5 linked regions of the Homo sapiens genome follow. The protein of the gene in region 3 interacts with the protein of the main gene of each other region in a pairwise test. Each region holds a gene or a part of one and is shown on either strand. Other genes may lie near its edges.

Region 1 (3,695 bases), on a different chromosome or scaffold from region 3:
TTGCTTATAAGACGATGGTTTAACAAAGGAAAAATCTCCCTTTTTGTAAAACAAATATCTGTGTTTCTAACGCGAGTTCTGCAGAGAAATGTAGAGGGAGAACAGAGCAGCAAAAGCCATCTCAGAATCAGTGAGACTCTACGGAAGCAGCTTTACATTTTGAGTCTTCCCATACAAAGCTTTTCAATCTCATTGCATATAAAGATTAATTGCAAAAATAATGCAGGGATAACTAAAAACCTGTTTATAGTACACTGATACTTTGTCATATGTAATTCCAATCTGTGACTGGCTGCCATGTACCCTGATCAAACAATATACACACAGACAAGACAGCTGTTTACTGAGACAGTCAGTATCCACAGTGATTCCATAAAGATGCCACTCTCATTTCTGGAACACTCTGCCATACTGTCATTTGGGAATGAATATCAGAGTCAACCTGCACCATTCATAAGCACTTTCCCCCCCAAAAATGTGATGTGCAATAATGGCAAATTCTGACTTCATTTGGTTCTCGTATATATGAAAGGCATTTGTTGGGTTTCTCACCAATTTGAACATCTCTGGTTTGGAATACGGTGAATCCTTGGACAAAAGCGTTCCCTGGATCCACTACATTTGTTCCATTTCTTTTTTGTAGGTTCTATAACATAGCACTAATGGGCGTTCAAGGCTGAAGGTCCTGAGTGTTGATTATCTCCACGTTTCCCTACTATTTGGATGCAGAGATGGATGACCTAGAGCTTGGTGGTCCCATGGTCATTTCCCATCAGTGTGAACTCTCTGAGGGTGTCTGAGGGGAGTGCTGTGTGAAAAGGCTTGTGTATGAATGTACGTTTCTCATGTGTATGATTGGGTCAAATCTAGAAAGGGATGAGCTATGGCTTAAGGTCTTCCTATGTCCCCAGCACATGTGGAGTGGGTTTATCCAGTGTGAGTTCTCTGGTGCTTGGTAAGGGAGGAGCTGTGGGTAAAGGCCTTTCCACAGTCCCTGCATGCATATGGCTTCTCTCCTGTGTGGATCCTCCGGTGCTGAGTGAGGTGGGTGCTCTGCCTAAAGGACTTTCCGCAATCGTGACACTCATAGGGCTTTTCCCCAGTGTGCGTCCTTTCGTGCTGGCTGAGCGAGGAGCTGTGGCTGAAGGATTTCCCACACTCATTGCACCCATACGGCTTTTCCTTGGTGTGAATCCTCTGGTGTTCGATGAGAAGGGAGCTCTGGCTGAAGGCTCTGCCACACTGGTTACATTCATAGGGTTTCTCTCCTGTGTGGATCCTCTGATGCTGAATGAGGGGAGCAAGCTGGCTGAAGGCTCTGCCACACTGGTTGCATTCGTAGGGCTTCTCCCCAGTGTGGATTCGCTGATGTTTGGTGAGGGACGAGCTGTGACTGAATGCCTTGCCGCAGTCATTGCATTCATAGGGCTTCTCCCCTGTGTGGATTCGCTGGTGTTGGGTGAGGTGTGTGCTCTGCCGGAAGGCCTTCCCACACTGACTGCACTCATAGGGCTTCTCTCCTGTGTGTGTCCGCTCATGCTGGCTGAGTGAGGAGCTGTGGCTGAAGGTTTTCCCACACTCGTTGCATCCATAGGGCTTCTCTCCTGTGTGAATCCTCCGATGCTCGGTCAGGAGTGTGCTCTGACTGAAGGCTTTCCCACACTCACCACACTCATAGGGCTTTTCTCCTGTGTGGGTCCTCTGGTGCTGAATCAGTGGTGTGATCTGGGTGAAGGCTTTTCCACACTCATGGCACTCGTAGGGCTTCTCCCCTGTGTGGATTCGCTGGTGTTTGGTCAAGGATGAGCTGTGGCTGAAGGCCTTGCCACACTCACCACACTGATAGGGTTTCTCCCCAGTGTGGATTCGCAGATGCTGGGTGAGGTGGATGCTTTGCCGGAAGGCTTTCCCACACTCACTGCACTCGTAGGGCTTCTCGCCTGTGTGAGTTCGCTCGTGCTGGCTGAAGGAGGACCTAAAACTGAAGGATTTCCCACATTCGCTGCATTCATAGGGCTTCTCACCTGTGTGAGTTCTCTGGTGCTGGATCAGTGGGGCAATTTGGTTGAAGGTCCTCCCACACTGAGTGCATTTATAGGGTTTCTCCCCAGTATGGATTCTCTGGTGTTTGGTAAGTGCCGAGCTGTTCCGGAAGCCTTTTAAGCATTCGTGACATTCGTAAGGTCTCTCTCCTGTGTGCGTCCGGTGGTGTTCGATAAGTGCTGAGCTGTGACTAAAGGCCTTTCCGCATTCCTGACATTTGTAGGGTTTCTCTTTTACACAGGTTTTCTGTAAAACATTTAGGTCTGGCTTCTCCCTTTTTCCACGTGTTCCCCATGTGTGGGGGCTTTGTCTTTCAGGAGTCATTGGTTGATGTGGGAGATCAGGGTTCAGACTTATGTTTTCCCCAAACCCATTCCTCTGCCACTGCTCCAGAACAGGCGTCTTCACAGGCGTGAAGGCCACCGGCACTGCCAGGCTCTCTAGACTCTCACAACTCCATTCCCAGTGGCCCTCAGTGTCCTCACCCCTGCAGTACCACAGACCATCCCACAGGAATCTTTCTACCAAGATGACACTGTTGGATATTTCTTCAGAGATGCCTTGCTTTAGAACTGACAGTTTGACTTTGGGTCTAGTTTCCAAGTCTGAAAGAAGCAAAAACTGGAAATGTCCCTTAATCTCTGTTCCACGGCAAAAGAGTTTGTGGTGAGATGGGAAGAGGAAGGATAAAACTAATTATTTTGAAACGTTCAAGGTTCAAGTGGCTTTGACCATTTAAAAATATAGTTTTGCAAACCAGGAAAGGAAGAGAGGGAAACACAGAATAAGGAAGAGGAAAATAAGGAATAAGGAAAGGAAGAGGAAAGAACAGAATAAGGAAAGGAAGAGGAGAGGGAGGAAAAAACAGTTGGCACAAGGAGTATGAATGGAGTCTGTGAGGGGAGCACAGAGGAGGATGCAGAGCGGATGCCCAGGAGAGAGCACTCAGACACACAGAGGCACTGGACTTGGAAGGAGCAGTGTGGCACCCAGGCTCCAGCTACAGTGGCCTCCACAATGCCAGGTGGCAACAGAGAAAAACGTGCTGCATGGGGAAAGTTGGCTGATACCCAGCTTCTTCCCGACAGCATATGCTGTTGTGCCACCTCACTCTAGATGTAAAGGAACCTAACTGCTCCCCACAAACAGGAATAGCTGCAATGTACATCACTAAGAGGAAGAAAAATGACCCGTGGCATATTAGAGTGCTTTGGTCTGCCTTATTTTGTCCATTTCACTAACTGGGAACCCCTTGAGGGTAGGGGTTTCCGTCCACCTTGCTTACCACTGTATCTATAGCCCACAGCAAGAGCTCAATATACATGCTTAATGAATGAACAAATGCATTCCCTCCTCCTCCTTCATGGCAGGACTCTCTTTTTGCCCTGGTACCCAGCCCTCTCTGCACAGCCATGACCTGGGTGTGTGCTGCCCCTACCCTGACCCCACAGTGGCCTAGAGGTGTGATGTGGGCACCTTCCCCATATTGTTATGTTTCAGTGAAAAGTTCAATTAAAAAAAAAAAAGTTAAGCCAGAGTGAATGGCAGAATAGTGGCTTCCCAAGATGCCCACATCCTAACCCTATAACCTGTATGTTTCCAATTACATGGGAGGGAGGAATTAAGGTTGCTAATCAGCTAACATTAAGATA
Region 2 (3,695 bases), on a different chromosome or scaffold from region 3:
AACTGGATCATCCAATGATCTGCTTCATCACTAAAATTAGCAGCAAGGAAGGAAAAGTCCCTTTACCCATTTGGGAGAGAGAAAGACCAGGCCAACTGTTGGATGCCCCTATTCCTCCCTGCCATCCATGGAAGCCATGTCACGAAATCCTCCATCTTTGTATAGACACAGGAGTCTGTGAGCATGCTAAAACTAATACAAACGGACTTAGAGCCACCATATTACTGGTTTTAACCTAAATAAATATGTGTAATGAGCAAAATGGGCAATTAAAAATTCCTAAATAGTGGGCTTGCTCTTATGTCTGTTTATAATCTTCAGGCTTTTAAAAGAAAACAAAACATTGCTGAGAATTTTAAGACAAAGCCATAAAATACCAATCCCTCCAGCCCTCTATAATGTTAAAGATCAGCGAAAATAGTGGAACTTCAATTGTAAGCAGCTTATTAGCACTCTCTCCTTTTTCTCCCTAAAATTATTTTAAAAAAACGTAGTATTCTTTACATCCGTATTTTGTGGAGGCTTAAAGGAGGTTGGTTCTTCACAGTTTCCATATTTCCTTTTGTGTGTGTGCATGTGTGTGTGTATAATAATAATAATAATTATTTTTTTCAAGAGACAAAGTCTCACTCCGTCACCCAGACTGGAGTGCAGTGGTGTGATAATAGTTCACTGCAACCTCGAACTCCTGGGCTTAAGCAATCCTCCTGCCTGAGCCTCCCAAGGAACATGGACTACAGACATGTGCTAGCACACCCAGCTAACTTTTTAAGTTTTAGTAGAAAAAGGGTCTTGCTCTGTTGCCTAGGCTGGTCTTGAACTCCTAGGCTTAAATGATTCTCTCACCTCGGCCTCCCAAAGTGCTGGGATTACAAGTGTGAGCCACCGTGCCCTGTCTCCTTATGTACATTTTGAAACTTTAACTTCTTCTAAAATTGTGTGAGAGACATTCTAGGGTTTTTATCCTGGGAAAGAATATGGGAATGTTAACATTGAGAATTATCTCCTAGATATTGTTTTGCAGTTTTCTCCATGTTTCCTTACATTTTTGTCAAAGTCTATAACAATGACTTCTCTGTTGTTTTTGGTTGGAGGATAGTGAATACTGTTTTTTCACACAAAGAAATATGGAAAAAGCGTGTGTGTATGTGTTCATGTGTGTATGCGCATGTCTTGTGTGTTTGTCTACATATGCATATCTTGCAAGTTGCATTTAGTTGTCTCCCTTTGACAGCCTCTCCCACTTCTATTCCTTTGTTTGGTCCCCACTGTTGCAATCAGTATTGGTTTGCAGACTTTGGAACTTTTTCATTTTTGACTTCTCATTTACTGAGCAAGGAATGACAGGAGCCATACTAAAAAACATTCCAGAGGGGAAAACAGATGGTTTCTTCATACACACAGGCTGTTGTCTAGGCTACGGATACAAGCAAGGGCTTGGATTTCTGTTTTGCTGGGTTACCTTCCCTCCAATGCAAGTACCCATAAGGGATTGCTCTGCTGAGCTCCAACCTCGTCTGCATCTGTTCAACAATGCTGTAGGGTAAGTGCAATTCATACCATAGGCAACTTCCATAATTACTATGATTTAGAATGGATTATTTCATTTTCACTTGAAACTGACCTAAGGATTAATGTATTACAATAATTACATGATTTGTGGTAAAGGAAATGGGTTTTGGCTTCAAGAGAAGATTGCTGAAAGCAGGCCCCACTCTTTCAAGTGCATCCATTTGTTTTAGCTCCTCTAGGATGTGAGGGTTTGGCTTTTAGGAACTATGTTCCATTAAGTAGGTATCTCTTTTAACCAGGATGGTGTTATGTGTAGGGAAAAACAAACCCACCTGTGGAGTTGAGAGCATGTCCAGGCTCCAGGAACACATTTTGCCATCAGTGGAGACAGTGATGAGGTTATGAGCATTCTGGGTCCCAACAACATTTACACAGTACACGGGATGCTGCAAAAACATAAACAAAGAGGATCAGAGACAGATCCAAGAGGAAATGCTTACATTTGAGTGTCAAACACATTACTCTAAAACAAGGATTAAAGAGTAACATAATCCTACTATAATACAAGCGTCAGGTCATTTGCCGCTTTTGATTTGAACCTGATTTCTTTCTAAAAGCTCTGGCAGCAACACATAATAGTGGAAATACTTATAAAGCTTCACCTTGCTCAGTCAGAATGCAATGCAGTGGAACAGAAGGACGCTAGAACAAATGAGGTTTGATGGGGCAGAGGCAATGCAGGGAGGTGAATTTGAACTACTTGAATAAGTCTCCACCGCATAGTTTGGCTTCTAAGCTCAACAAGAGTGATGGAAAAAGACAGTCTTCAAAAGGGTAGAACTACTGACTTTTGGAAGGAATACATGTTACTAAATCTGGAGTTTAATGCATTATAGTCACAATGCCAAACATTTGTTAACATTCTTTATAAAAAGTGGTTAATATTCATAACCATTTTAATCTGGGGGAGAGATACTAGTGGTGAGATTATTGGCACAATGTACCTGGTGAGATAAAATTAGGTTCTTCTATGTTACTGCAAAATCTAGGATAATAATATATTTATTTTTCAAAATACCGTTTGCAGTAGTATAGAGGCTTAGATTTGGCCAGGGCATTGAGAAAGGTCATTTATACATCCCAGGAACCATACACAAGATGTTGTAACCCTCTGTCATACTCTAGTGGGTTATCCCACTCTGCAGAATTCTAAACGGTAGGCTAAAATCATTTGCAGCTGTGTATTAAACACAAAATGGAAGGTTACTATGAGCAGAACCTACAGCAATTTGGGTTAGATTTCAGGCAGTTCAGCCACCAGTGGCCAAACCACACTTACTTGGTGCTTCTTTGTGCAAATAGCTGACAGTATCAGTCTTACCCTTGGTGAGTTACTGTCCATAATACCTAGCCACAACTACAATGAAACAATATTTAATATTGGAAAGTTGCTATTGTATAAAGGATGGTTCCCAAACTATTATTATCATATAAACTGCTGGTCAGAAGGAGTGGTAATAATCATCTAATGTAGCTACTCATCTGCCTCAACCAAGAGGTGGTCCAAACTCTGCTTAAACACCTTCCTTAAAGGGCAGCCAGTTTTCGTAGTATCCTGGGGGAGTTTTTTCTTCCACTAATGGGGATAAAGAAAGTTCAAGGAGATACTTCCAGTGCAGTGCCCTGTGGGACCAAACCAAACTAATCAAGTCAAAACAGTACAGCTTTTTGAATATTTATAGATAGTTGTTCCCTGTTACTCCTCTCCCTGCCAAATCTTTTCTTACCCAGACTGTCACTAATTCCTTCATCTGTTCCTTGGGTACCTGGTTTTCAAAACCTTTCCTATCCTGGTGAATCTCTTTTGAAAATGCTGTATTTTGTCTGATTCCTCTTCCAGTGAGGTTCTGAGAATAAAACAGAACTGTCTACCTATATTCTGACCAGCAGAATATAGAAACCTGGGTAGCATTGAATTATCACTTCTCATGTGATAAAAAATATGCCTGCATTTAATGCATGCTAAGATTACATCTGCTTTTTTGACAATTATATCACCTCTTTCCCCCGTGCTGATGGACAGTCAGCTAAGTCCCTATGTCTTTCACACCATGTCCCTACTGAAACTTCCAAATGAGTCAGCCTTAGTGGATCTGCACATAGTAAGTACAGCAGAGATCTGA
Region 3 (3,695 bases):
CCCAGCCCTATCCTTTGGATTTCACCTTTGTGTGTCCTACAGAAATTGTTGCTTCTAGTGACAAAGCTAAGGAATTTCACGATGTGAACTTTGAAGTTGTTGCAGTCTCAGTGGATTCCCACTTTAGCCGTCTTGCCTGGATAAATACACCAAGAAAGAATGGTGCTTTGGGCCACATAAACATCGCACCCTTGTCAGATTTAACTAAGCGAATTTCTCGAGACTTCGGTGTGCTGTTAGAAGGTCCTGGTCTTGCACTAAGAGGTCTCTTCATAATTGACCCCAATGGAGTCATCAAGTACTTGTTTTTGTTTGTTTGTTTGTTTGTTTTTTTGAGACAGCATCTCACTCTCTGTTGCCCAGGCTCAAGTGCAGTGGCACAATCACGGCTCATTGCAGGTTTGACCTCTTGAGCTCAGGTGATCCTCCCACCTCAGCCTCTAGAATAGCTGGGACTACAAGTGCGCATCACAGTGTCCAGCTAATTTTTATATATTTTGTAGAGACAGGGTTTTGCCAAGTTGCCCAGGCTGGTCTAGAACTCCTGGGCTCAAGCGATCTACCCGCCTCAGCCTCCCAAAGTGCTGGGATTACAACAGCTGTGAGCCACCATGCCCGGCCGGAGCCACAGTCTTTAAGGTCATGAAAAACAATCAAGTTGTCTAAGCCTCTACCTAATGTTACGAAGGGAAGGAGAACTCCAAGAGCCCTTCTCGGTCTCAGCTCTGGGCCTAACCAGCAGCCCCCTCATTCCTTCCTTCTAGTGGTTCCCGAGAACCTCGCCTCTCTAGCTCTCCCCTCCATGGTATATGGACACAAGGCCAGGCACTTTTCTGCTGATTATCCTGGGGAAGGAGAACTAAATACTAAAGATGGGAAAGTAACCAAAGGTCTAGAATCCTGATAAGCCTTTGCAGGCTGAGCTTCTGCAGGTTGTCACTGGCCCAGTTCTGACTGATGAGGTGGCAGTTCTGAACTTCACCCAACTTTTATTCTCCCAGGGCTGAGAATCCTCCCACCTGTCTTTTGAGACCCCTTGTCCCACACTAAAAAGTGCACATTCTTTGGGATTAGAGGGAACTGGGTTCACCTTCCAGAGCTTGTGGCTGGCCAGTTGCCTTAACCTCTCTGAACTGTATCCTCATCTATAAAAGGGGATGCAATGACTACTTCTCAGGGCTGTCATCAAGACTGAATGAAATGGTTGTAAATCCACAAATATTTATAGTGCTTTACTACTAAGGGAGGAGACCACCCCTCATATTGTCTTATGCCCAATTTCTGCCTCCAAAGAAGTAAAAACTAAAAGGCAGAAATGAAATCCACAGGCAGACAGCCTGGCGCCGCGACCTGTGTCTGGTTAAAGATCGACCCCTGACCTAACCGGTTATGTTATCTATAGATTCCAGACATCGTATGGAAAAGCACTGTGAAAATCCCTGTCCTGTTCTGTTCCGTTCTGATAACCAGTGCATGCAGCCCCCAGTCACATATCCCCTGCTTGCTCAATCAATCACGACCTCTTCATGCAGACCCCCTTAGAGTTGTAAGCCCTTAAAAGGGACAGGAACTGCTCACTCGGGGAGCTCAGTTTTTGGAGACGTGAATCTTGCCAAAGCTCCCAGCTGAATAAAGCCCTTCCTTCTTTAACTGGGTGTCTGGGGGGTTTTGTCTGCGGCTTATCCTGCTACACTACTGCTTGGCTTTGGGTGAGGAGGTGTAGCAAGGATAAAGGAGACTAACCCTTTTTTACTCTCATAATTTGTTCATCCTTTGTATTTATTTTTGAGACAGGGTCCTGCCCAGACTTGAGTGCAGTGGCATGGTCATGGCTCACTGCAGCCTCAACCACCCGGGCTTGAGCCATCCTGGATAGCTGGGACTACAGGTGTGCACCACCACGCCCGGCTAATTTTTGTATATTTTGCAGAAACAACGTCTTGCCATGTTGCCCAGGCTGGTCCCGAACTCCTGGGCTCAAGCGATTCTCTAGCCTTGGACTCCCAAAGTGCTGGGATTATAGGTGTAAGCCACCATGCCTGGCCTTTTATTTTATTTTTTTAAGAGAGGGGGTCTCACTCTGTCACCTAGGCTGGAGTGCAGTGGTGCAATTAGCTTATTGCAGCCTCGAACTCATGGACTCAAGCGATCTTCCCACCTCAGCTTCCCAAGAGCCTGGGATCATGGGCACGTGCCACAGCACTTGGCTTGATTTGTTCATCCTAAAAAAGTCCAGAGGATTCTTGGCAGGCCTGCCCAAGATCCCCCTATGAGCTTGGCCAAACACAAAGACTCCCAGGCTTGGGCTTAAATGACCAGGTAGATGGTAGACTTCCATGTAGTGAGATAGAGAACACTGTTGAACAAACAGGAGAGAAGAGACGTGAAGCTCCATGTTGCTAGGTGTTTTCATTCAATCTGAAGTGCTTGGGAGCCATCCCAGAAAGGATGTCAGGCAGGCAAAGTTAGATGGGGTAGGGATGTGGGATATAAGAGGCATCTTTGTGGCCGGGCACGGTGGCTCACGCCTGTAATCCCAGCAGATTGGGAGGCCAAGGCGGGTGGATCACCTGAGGTCAGGAGTTCGAGACCAGCCTGACCAACGTGGAGGAACCCCATCTCTACTAAAAATACAAAATTAGCCAGGCGTGGTGACGCGTGCTGTAATCCCAGCTACTCGGGAGGCTGAGGCAGGAGAATCGCTTGAACCCAGGAAGTGGAGGTTGTGGTAAGCCGAGTTTGCACCATTGCACTCCAGCCTGGGCAACAAGAGTGAAACTCTGTCCCTCCACCAAAAAAAGAGGCACCCTTGTTTTAGATAGACAGCTGTATGCCAAGGCAAACATCTCATCAGTTCATCAGAATAATCTGTAGCAGTCTGCTGTGCCTGGGAGGGAGACTGTATTAGCATGAAAAGTACTCACAATAAGAAGTCAGGAGAAAAAGCAGGAAACAATTATGTCAGCACAGTTGGTGCTGATGGCTGGGCTGCCATGAGCACAGCCCGGAATGGAGTCAGACACATAAGGGCTATATGAAGTGTTGGTGTCATGGGGCATTAACCAAAAAATCTGTTATCATGGATGGAACAAACCCAGTCAACATCTCCTTAGTTGTGTTTGGCTAATATTCTGGAGCGTTTCACTACAAGCTGGCCACAATGATCCCACTCTACAGAGAAGAAAACTGAGGCTCAGAAAGGTGAAGTATCTCACTCAAGATTGGAAGAGAAGGCCAAGATCTGAACCAAGTTAGTCAGACTCCAGAGCTGGCGTCCTTGAGTGTTATTAGAAATTTCTTCTGGCCGGGCGCGGTGGCTCACGCCTGTAATCCCAGCACTTTGGGAGGCCGAGGCGGGCGGATCATGAGGTCAGGAGATCGAGACCACGGTGAAACCCCGTCTCTACTAAAAATACAAAAAATTAGACAGGCGTGGTGGCGGGCGCTTGTAGTCCTAGCTACTCGGGAGGCTGAGGCAGGAAAATGGCGTGAACCCGGGAGGCAGAGCTTGCAGTGAGTCGAGATCACGCCACTGCACTCCAGCCTGGGTGACAGAGCAAGACTCCGTCTCAAAAAAAAAAAAAAAAAAAAAAGAAATTTCTTCTGCCTCCTTCCTCCCCATGCTCCCTAGTAGTCTCTCAGCTTGCCTGGAACTGTGTCTCCTCCTCCTTTCCCTAGGAAAGACAGCAACTTTT
Region 4 (4,495 bases), on a different chromosome or scaffold from region 3:
TTCTCCATTTGTAAAAATGATATTTCAGTCCACCCGGACACAAGTCAGGATCGCGCTCGCAGGCTGGGCCAACCCACAAGGAGCTAGGGGTAGCTGAAATCGCTCGCCAGCCTGCAGCATCTCTGAGGCCGTCTGGGGTTTTCGGAAATTTGCATTTGGTGTGGAAAGCCGGCGTGGTGCGTTTAGCTTGAGCAGGGGCGCCTTGGAGGTCTATTTCCAAGGCTGTGGGCCTGGCGCCCTCACGACATTGTACCTATCCCGAAGGAAACGGGGCTCAGTCACCCAAAGAGCCCACGAGAAAGGCCGAGCAGGAGAGGGGAAAACACACACACACAACAGAGAACCATTGCATTTATTGGACATTGAAACGGGAGCAGAGAGGGAAAGGAAGTGTGTGGGGAGGCGGTTGGTAGGGTAAAGCCAGACAGCTTTGGAGAGAGCTGCTAAAATCGGGAATATTTTGTCGATTCACACTCGACTGGGCCACATGACTCGGGCAACTTTTCTTCATCTCTGCTCACAAACTAGGCTGAGCCTTCTCTTTCTCTGCTTTGGGAAAAATTCGTAACTTTGAGGCCTGCGCGCTCTCTCGGCAGTAATTTCACAGGCTTGGCGGAGGAAGTAGGATCGTTAGCATAAGATGGGCCGCCTGCAGCTGCCTGGAACCGGCGCGATCTGAACGCCGGCTGGGAGGCTCCTGGGGGGAACTTGCGGTCGTCTGCCCTCCGCACTCCTCCGGGAACCGCAGCCGGCCCTGGTTCGCTGCGCGCCGGGGCTGAGACCCGGGAGCCGCGTCCTGCCCGAGGAAATGTCACCCTCCCCAGCGCGAGCCCTTTTTCCCGCCTCAGAACGTTTCTGTCCGCTCTTCTATTTACTCTCTCAGCAAGCCTAATGCCCCCTCCTGCATTCTTCAGCCTCCCCCTGCGCCCAGGGCTGACGTCTATCAAGGGTGAAATGATGGAAACTATATTCATGGGCATGATTTCCATTAAATATCAATTAACCTGAGAGCCTCGGCCAGGCTTGCGGTGCGTCAAGGGTAAATGTACATCTCATTTCCACAGGGCCCGCTCGGCTGGAAAAGAAAGGCTTTGATTTGCTTTGATAACGCCAGGATCTGGGGCCACACTCGCGGCTTTTAATTAAACCACTTCGATATGCCCCAACTCAAATGCACGGTCCGGTCCGTCAACACCTCTTGTCCACGTTCCCTGGGCTGCACCCGCGTGTCCAGAGCTGCAAAAGCCACGGGCAACCTCTGCTTTTGCAGCCAGGGGCTCGGGGAGGCAGTCATTTGCTCCGCAGCCTCCTGGGAGTGGCCTCCTTGGCTCCCCCAAGTCTAAGGCTCCGCCGCGGCCCCTCCCTGCCGGCTGCGATCCGCATTCCCGCGGCCCCGGGGCACACGGAGCCCTTGGCAGTGCGTCTTTATGGGCCCCCTTTAAGGCCGGCGGAGGCATCTCGGGCCGGGCGCGGCGCTCCGTCCGTCGGCCGTAGCGACTGAACTGCGCGCGGATCCCTCCGCGGGGCTCCTCGTCCCCGTCACGCTGACTTTCCGTGCAGTGCTGTGGTGCGAAAATGCCTCGCCGGTGCGCACCGGGTCGGCAGCCTCGGCGGCGGGGGCGAGATTGGCGGGAGGGGGGCGCGGGGGGGGCGCGGTAAGAGGTGGCGGCGGGCAGAGGGTGTTTTTTTTCTTTTCCCTCCAGAGCCGGGGTTTGTAAACCGAGGCCAGAGTGTCCCCGTGGGCCGAGCGCACTTTTTTCTTGTCCGGGTGCGCTCAGTCACTGGTGCCTGAGAGGAAACAGTGGAGGCAGCGGGGCAGGTCGCCTGGGGCGTCGGCGATTATATTGCGGCCGAGCCGGGGCGCGCCGGGAAAGGCCGGGAGGGCGGCGGCGCGCGGGGGCTGGGCGAGGCCCCGCGACCCGCGAGGGAGGCGGCGCGAAGCCGAGGCGGCGGGCGCAAGAGCCGGGCATGAGCGCCCAGTAGCTGAGCGCCCGCGGCTGCCTGGCCTCAGAAGCGACGCGCGAGCGCGGGCGGGCGGCAGCAGCGACGTAGCCCGGCGGTCCCGGCGGCGAGAGCAGCCGCCCCACAGGCCCCCGCGGCAGTGCGGCCGAGTCGAGGCTCGCTCTCTGGCTGCTTAGCGCCGCCCGCCCGCCCGGGGCCGCCGCCGCTGACGCCCCAATGAGTTCGTACTTCGTGAACCCGCTGTACTCCAAGTACAAGGCGGCGGCTGCGGCGGCGGCGGCGGCGGGCGAGGCCATCAATCCCACTTACTACGACTGTCACTTCGCGCCCGAGGTCGGCGGCCGTCACGCCGCCGCCGCAGCAGCCCTGCAGCTCTATGGCAACAGCGCCGCCGGCTTCCCGCACGCGCCCCCGCAGGCGCACGCGCACCCGCACCCGTCCCCGCCGCCCTCCGGGACTGGGTGCGGCGGTAGGGAAGGCCGGGGCCAGGAGTACTTCCACCCCGGCGGGGGCAGCCCGGCCGCTGCCTACCAGGCCGCCCCCCCTCCTCCTCCGCATCCTCCGCCTCCGCCGCCACCTCCCCCCTGCGGCGGGATTGCCTGTCACGGGGAGCCCGCGAAGTTTTACGGATACGATAACTTACAGAGACAGCCGATTTTTACGACCCAGCAAGAGGCCGAGCTGGTACAATATCCTGACTGTAAATCGTCCAGTGGTAATATTGGCGAGGACCCAGACCACTTAAATCAGAGCTCGTCTCCTTCTCAAATGTTTCCGTGGATGAGACCACAAGGTTGGGATGCATTTTTTTTTTAAGAAGGGAGAGGGGGAGAAATCTGCTTTCATCTCACGTTCTGGCTTTAAAACTCCCGTTCCCTCTCCCCCTCCTTTTCCTTCTTGTGTAGCCACAGTGGCTCTTATTCATAAAGTAATACAGACTTTTTTTAAAAAAGTAGGAACCATGTAAAGATGATGGGGACAGAATAATTGTGAAGACCTCTCTGCTCCTCTTGCCTGCACACCCTATATATATATATCGGAGCTAAAGAGCTCTGTGTATATTTCACCCCGTAGACCCCCGTTCCACAAACCTCCAGCAACATGCAGAGGTACCATAACATTTTTAAAACTTTTATTCCCCCCCCCTTTTTTTTTGTTTTAATCAGCAGCTCCTGGTAGACGAAGAGGAAGACAAACCTACAGTCGCTTCCAAACTCTAGAGTTGGAAAAGGAATTTCTTTTTAACCCCTATCTGACCAGGAAAAGAAGAATCGAGGTTTCCCACGCCCTAGCCCTCACCGAGAGACAGGTAAAAATCTGGTTCCAGAACAGGAGAATGAAATGGAAAAAGGAAAACAACAAGGACAAATTTCCCGTTTCCCGGCAGGAGGTGAAGGACGGGGAAACGAAAAAGGAAGCCCAAGAGCTGGAGGAAGACAGAGCCGAAGGCCTGACAAATTAACTTCTACCTTTAAAATTTACCACAGACTATTAAAACTAATAATCACCATATGCTGTGGACACCACCTATTTTCTTTGTTGGAAAGGACCTTACCTGTGTTTCAAGCTACCTTCATGTCACTGCTCTTGAGGTTTTCTGTGCTTTGAGAGGGATTTGGGTGTTTAAAAAAGTTTCTAGTATCACATAGAAGCTGTCCTTGAGCTGTCCTATGGAAGGGTAATTTGATACTGACCTTGTAGCTATATTTTTATAATGGTTTTTAATGTCTGAGCTAGTGATTTGCCTCAACAACGTAAACTTCCTAATGATTAGCACTTAATAATTGCATATAAAATGCTTTATTAATTAAACAAGTGCACTTGAACATTTTAATATTTGTGGTGAGTAAATTAAAAGGAGTTTATTAATTAAAAAAAATTATGTCTGCAGAATACTTTATATTATTTGATTACAATGTATTATTTATGGATTTTTTATTCTTTCCTTTATAATGAATAGTTCGGGTGCGTTTTGTTTACTCCTAAAAGGTTTCTTTGCGTATTTTCTAAATGTAATATCTCGGGGAAAATATTAGAAAAGCACGTATTAGCTGAAGAATGTAACTTGTAGTCCAGCTCTGCAGCTTCCTTAAACTTAAGAAAAAGATTGGGCCAGTGACAAGAATTTAAAGACAATGTCCAAGTTGACAATTATTTTTCTATAGTCCATACAAATTAAATAATCTGGCAACTCTGGCAAATCGCCTTGTAAAATGCGTCTCATTTTTTAACTTGCTTTCGTTTTGAACCGCCCTTGTAATCGCCTGAAATCGCTAGTTCTTTATGCGGTGGCTGCCGCTGTGTTCCGTTATTTTCAGTAGGTGTCATATTTATTTGTATTGCCTTTGTTCTGTTCGCCGCTGGTTTTAAACCAGCTTGCTGTGTGCATCTCAGACGTCGGTTGGTACGTCCTCCGCTGTTCTTCAGGAAAGCGATAGCCTCACCTATTTGAAACAAGCCCTGAGAGGAAACGCAGAAAAACCTGAGTGTAAACAACTCCGGAATGTCGCTAGCTCCTTAGTAAATAAATGAA
Region 5 (3,577 bases), on a different chromosome or scaffold from region 3:
CCTTTTTGAGACAAATTCTCACGCTGTTACTCAGGCTGGAGTGCTGATGCAATCACAGCTCACTGCAGCCTCAACCTCCTGGGCCCAAGCAATCTTACCACCTCCTCTGAGACAGCTGAGACCACAGGTGTGCACCATCATGTCTGGCTAATTTTAAAAAATTTTTCTTTTTTTAGAGATGGGGTCTTGCTATGTTGCCCAGGCTGGTCTTGAACTCCCAGACTCAAGCGATTCTCCCACATCAGCCTCACAAAGTGCTAGGATTATAGGCATGAGCCACCACACCTGGCCACATCTTGTTTAAAAAAAAAAATAAAGATCCTCATTATTTGATTGAATGTTTTGTTTTGCTTCGTTTTTTGAGACAGAGTCTCGCTCTGTCGCCCAGGCTAAGGTGCGATGGCGTGATCTCAGCTCACTGCAAGCTCCGCTTCCTGGGTTCAAGCGATTCTCCCACCTTAACCTTCCGAGTAGCTGGGATTACAGGCGCCAGCCATCATGCCTGGCTAATTTTTGTATTTTTAGTAGAGACGGAGTTTCACCATGTTGGCCAGGCTGGTCTCGAACTCCTGACCTCAGGTGATCCACCCGCCTCGGCCTCCCAAAGTGCTGGGATTACAGGCGTGAGCCACTGTGCTCGGCCGGTTGAATGTTAATAAATTTTAAAAACATACCAAAAGAATGCAGTTGAAATTTTAACTTTATTATTTTCCTATTACAAAAGCAACACATATTCATTACATAATAAAAGGGAGGGAGCTCAAAAGATATAAAGAAGTCTATGTTTTTTTTGTTTGTTTGTTTTTTTAAAGGAGTCTGTTTTAAAATTGCCTATTATCCTATTCCAGGGAAAACTATTAACATTTTGCCATATTTCATTTTATCAGTCTTTTCCTATGTATTTTTGAACACAGCTCAAATATTACTCTATATAAAGACTTGTATTCAGCTTTTTCAACATAAATTACATTAAAGTTATTTTTATGTCAATAAAAATTATCTTTGTAAACAAAATTTTAATGGCAAAATAACATTTCATCATATAGACATACTGTAATTTATTTAAACACTCTCCTAAAATCAAATATTTAGTTAGGAGAAAGTTAGTAGGTCAAAGCATATAAACATTGCGCAGGTCACTGTGGCCTAAAAAGGCTGTTCTTTTTTATTTTTTTTGGAACAGAGTCTCGTACTGTTGCCCAGCCTGGAGTGCAGGGGTGCAATCTCGGCTCACTGCAACCTCTGCCCCCTGGGTTCAAGCAATTCTGCCCCAACCTCCTGAGTAGCTGGGTTTACAGGCACAGGCCACCATGCTCGGCTAATTTTTGTATTTTTAGTAGAGACAGGGTTTCACCTTATTGGCCAGGCTGGTCTCGAACTCCTGACCTCAAGTGATCCACCCGCCTCGGCCTCCCAAAGTGCTGGGATTACAGGCGTGAGCCACTGCACCCGGCCTCAAAGGCTGGGAGGGAATGCAGTGACTCTGCGGGTGAGGGGTGGTATCAAGGCCGGCAGCAAGACAGAGAAGGCTCACAGGTCCTGGCCTAGCCGCTCCAGCTCGTTGAGGAGGAAGTCCATATCAGCACAGGTCAGTGCAGAGTTGGCCACAACCACACGGAAGAAGTTGCCCCGGGTCCCGTGGGGCTGGTAGCCAATCATCATGGAGCCCTCCTTCACCATGCGCTCCTTGAGCACGGGGGCCACCTGTGGAAGGGTGGAGAGAGATTCCAGCTGCAGCCTGGGTCGGCTGACAGGTAGGCTGGCTTCTTGTCCTGCCAGGCTTCCAGAGGTGCTTTTCCTTCCCACCCAGCCACCTTCTGGGGGTAGCACACCTTGCTCAGACCTTGACCTTGGCCTCAGTTTACCTTTCTGTCATATCTAACCTGCTTGGCCTTCGCTATCTTCTGCTTTTCTCCCCATTTCTCCTGTCTCCAAGAAATCTGTCCTGTGGGACATTTTCTGCCAAATCTTGACTTTCTCTTGATTCCTAACACTGCTTTAGTCTAACTTCAAGCCTTGGTCATCTAAGCCTTAGTCAACACCTTCTTCTCCCCTCTCTTAATTCCTGTAATATTTTTGATAATATTAATCTGTGCCCTGTGATCTAGCAAGTAATTTACAACACTGCCTTGAACACATTGCTTCCAAGTAGGTAACTCTTGCCTTATAATAACAACTCCATAAGGGCAAGAACATTTGTCCTTTCAGATCATCTGCAGCACCTAGTACCACTCTATCTTTAGGGACCAGGATATAACACAGCTCCTCGCCTCCAGATGGCACTTCTAGACTGGCTTTCTCGGGTTGCTGTGTCCCTAGCACGGGTAATAAGGCTTTTCCATGATCATTCTGCCTCATATCTGTCCTGGGCCTGAGTTCCCAGCCCAATTGCCAGCACAAGGCTCTGTGTACTACACACTGGTGACTTCTCTGACTTCTCCTGTAACACACGTCGCTGCTTCTTACTTCCCAGAAACATACCTTCCTCCCCATCCCCACCCCTACCGAAAAGAGAGCATCCACGCCTCAGAGCAAGAGACCAGCAAGGAGACCTGCCATGCCACTCCCAGCCAACAGGGGGCAGAAGCGCATCAGTTGCATCAGCTCCCTAACGGGTAAAGAGAGCAGCACAGCACGCCTACCTTTGACAGCCTTTCGTGGTAATCTGGACTCTCCTGCTTCCCTCGCAGGCTGGGGGGTACGAACCAGAAACACACATTGACAAACTCAGGCTGAGAGGAATGAGAAAGAGGAAGGTGTGAGCTGAGAAAGGGGGACCGTTTTCCCTCTCCCTGCCCCTTTCCCCTCTCCCTGCCCTTTTCCCTCCACTAGGGCTTTAGTTGGGGCTTGGGGGCTGCAAAAGAGCTAGGCTGGGGCAGGGGCCACAAAATAGAAAGGGGTCCTACCTCCATGACTAGCTCAAACCCTTCCCGCTTCTTCATTTCCTCCACCAGGTACCTGTGAACAGAGAGTGAGAAACCATAGGCGGGGAGGAAAAGCAGAGATCCAGACAGAAGAGGCCCACGTAGAATGAGCCACAGAGAGACCGAGAGAAAAGTAATCCCGGGAGCAGGAAAGAGGGAGGGGCATGGACCCAGGAGAGGGGAACAGGGACGACCCCCCACCTCCTCCCGCCTACCGGGCAAGGACAAAGGCCTGGTCGATGCGCCGCTCCAGCCCTTGATCGCCCTGTGCCTTCCACATGAGCCACAGCTTCAGACAGTCCACACGGCGGCCACACTGCACCACCTTGTCTCCCGTGTCCAGAGCCACATCGTAGAACTTGTCCTGCTGGAAAAGGTAGCTGGCCTGGGACCCATGGCAGCGCTTGAGCAGGTTCTGTGTGGGGGTGAGGAGATTGTCAGACCCTACCCTCTCCACCGAGGCTTTCCTCCAGGGCTGCACTGTGGGGGTCTTAGCTCAGGATACCCTCTTCTTTCCCTGGAGCCAGATGGCACTGCTGGGACGGCTGCCTGCTGGCTCCAACACCTTTCTTTGGGTTTCCTCCCAATACCCAGGGTTCTTCCCAAACTCTGATGGCAACCTCAAGCTAGAAACTCCAGGATACCTCTGACTC

The links.
Region 1: the proteins of RCC1 (region 3) and ZNF135 interact in a two-hybrid assay, tested with the Homo sapiens proteins (one large-scale study listed by BioGRID and IntAct).
Region 2: the proteins of RCC1 (region 3) and DYNC1I1 interact in a two-hybrid assay, tested with the Homo sapiens proteins (one large-scale study listed by BioGRID and IntAct).
Region 4: the proteins of RCC1 (region 3) and HOXD8 interact in a two-hybrid assay, tested with the Homo sapiens proteins (one large-scale study listed by BioGRID and IntAct).
Region 5: the proteins of RCC1 (region 3) and CSAD interact in a two-hybrid assay, tested with the Homo sapiens proteins (one large-scale study listed by BioGRID and IntAct).

The regions. Positions count from the first base shown.
Region 1 is NC_000019.10:58,065,694-58,069,388, reverse strand, and holds part of ZNF135 (zinc finger protein 135), read right to left. Parts: intron 2,685-3,695; coding exon of another isoform or gene 2,649-2,684; coding exon 928-2,648; 3' UTR 1-927. UniProt on the Homo sapiens protein: Plays a role in the regulation of cell morphology and cytoskeletal organization. May be involved in transcriptional regulation.
Region 2 is NC_000007.14:96,030,930-96,034,624, reverse strand, and holds part of DYNC1I1 (cytoplasmic dynein 1 intermediate chain 1), read right to left. Parts: intron 1,959-3,695; coding exon 1,845-1,958; intron 1,544-1,844; exon of another isoform or gene 1,466-1,543; intron 1-1,465. UniProt on the Homo sapiens protein: Acts as one of several non-catalytic accessory components of the cytoplasmic dynein 1 complex that are thought to be involved in linking dynein to cargos and to adapter proteins that regulate dynein function.
Region 3 is NC_000001.11:28,522,926-28,526,620, reverse strand, and holds part of RCC1 (regulator of chromosome condensation), read right to left. Parts: intron 264-3,695; exon of another isoform or gene 8-263; intron 1-7. UniProt on the Homo sapiens protein: Guanine-nucleotide releasing factor that promotes the exchange of Ran-bound GDP by GTP, and thereby plays an important role in RAN-mediated functions in nuclear import and mitosis.
Region 4 is NC_000002.12:176,128,189-176,132,683, forward strand, and holds the start of HOXD8 (homeobox protein Hox-D8), read left to right. Parts: upstream 1-1,516; 5' UTR 1,517-2,178; coding exon 2,179-2,755; intron 2,756-3,128; coding exon 3,129-3,424; 3' UTR 3,425-4,495. UniProt on the Homo sapiens protein: Sequence-specific transcription factor which is part of a developmental regulatory system that provides cells with specific positional identities on the anterior-posterior axis.
Region 5 is NC_000012.12:53,156,981-53,160,557, forward strand, and holds the end of CSAD (cysteine sulfinic acid decarboxylase), read right to left. Parts: intron 3,340-3,577; coding exon 3,140-3,339; intron 2,959-3,139; coding exon 2,907-2,958; intron 2,733-2,906; coding exon 2,643-2,732; intron 1,705-2,642; coding exon 1,531-1,704; 3' UTR 683-1,530; downstream 1-682. UniProt on the Homo sapiens protein: Catalyzes the decarboxylation of L-aspartate, 3-sulfino-L-alanine (cysteine sulfinic acid), and L-cysteate to beta-alanine, hypotaurine and taurine, respectively. The preferred substrate is 3-sulfino-L-alanine.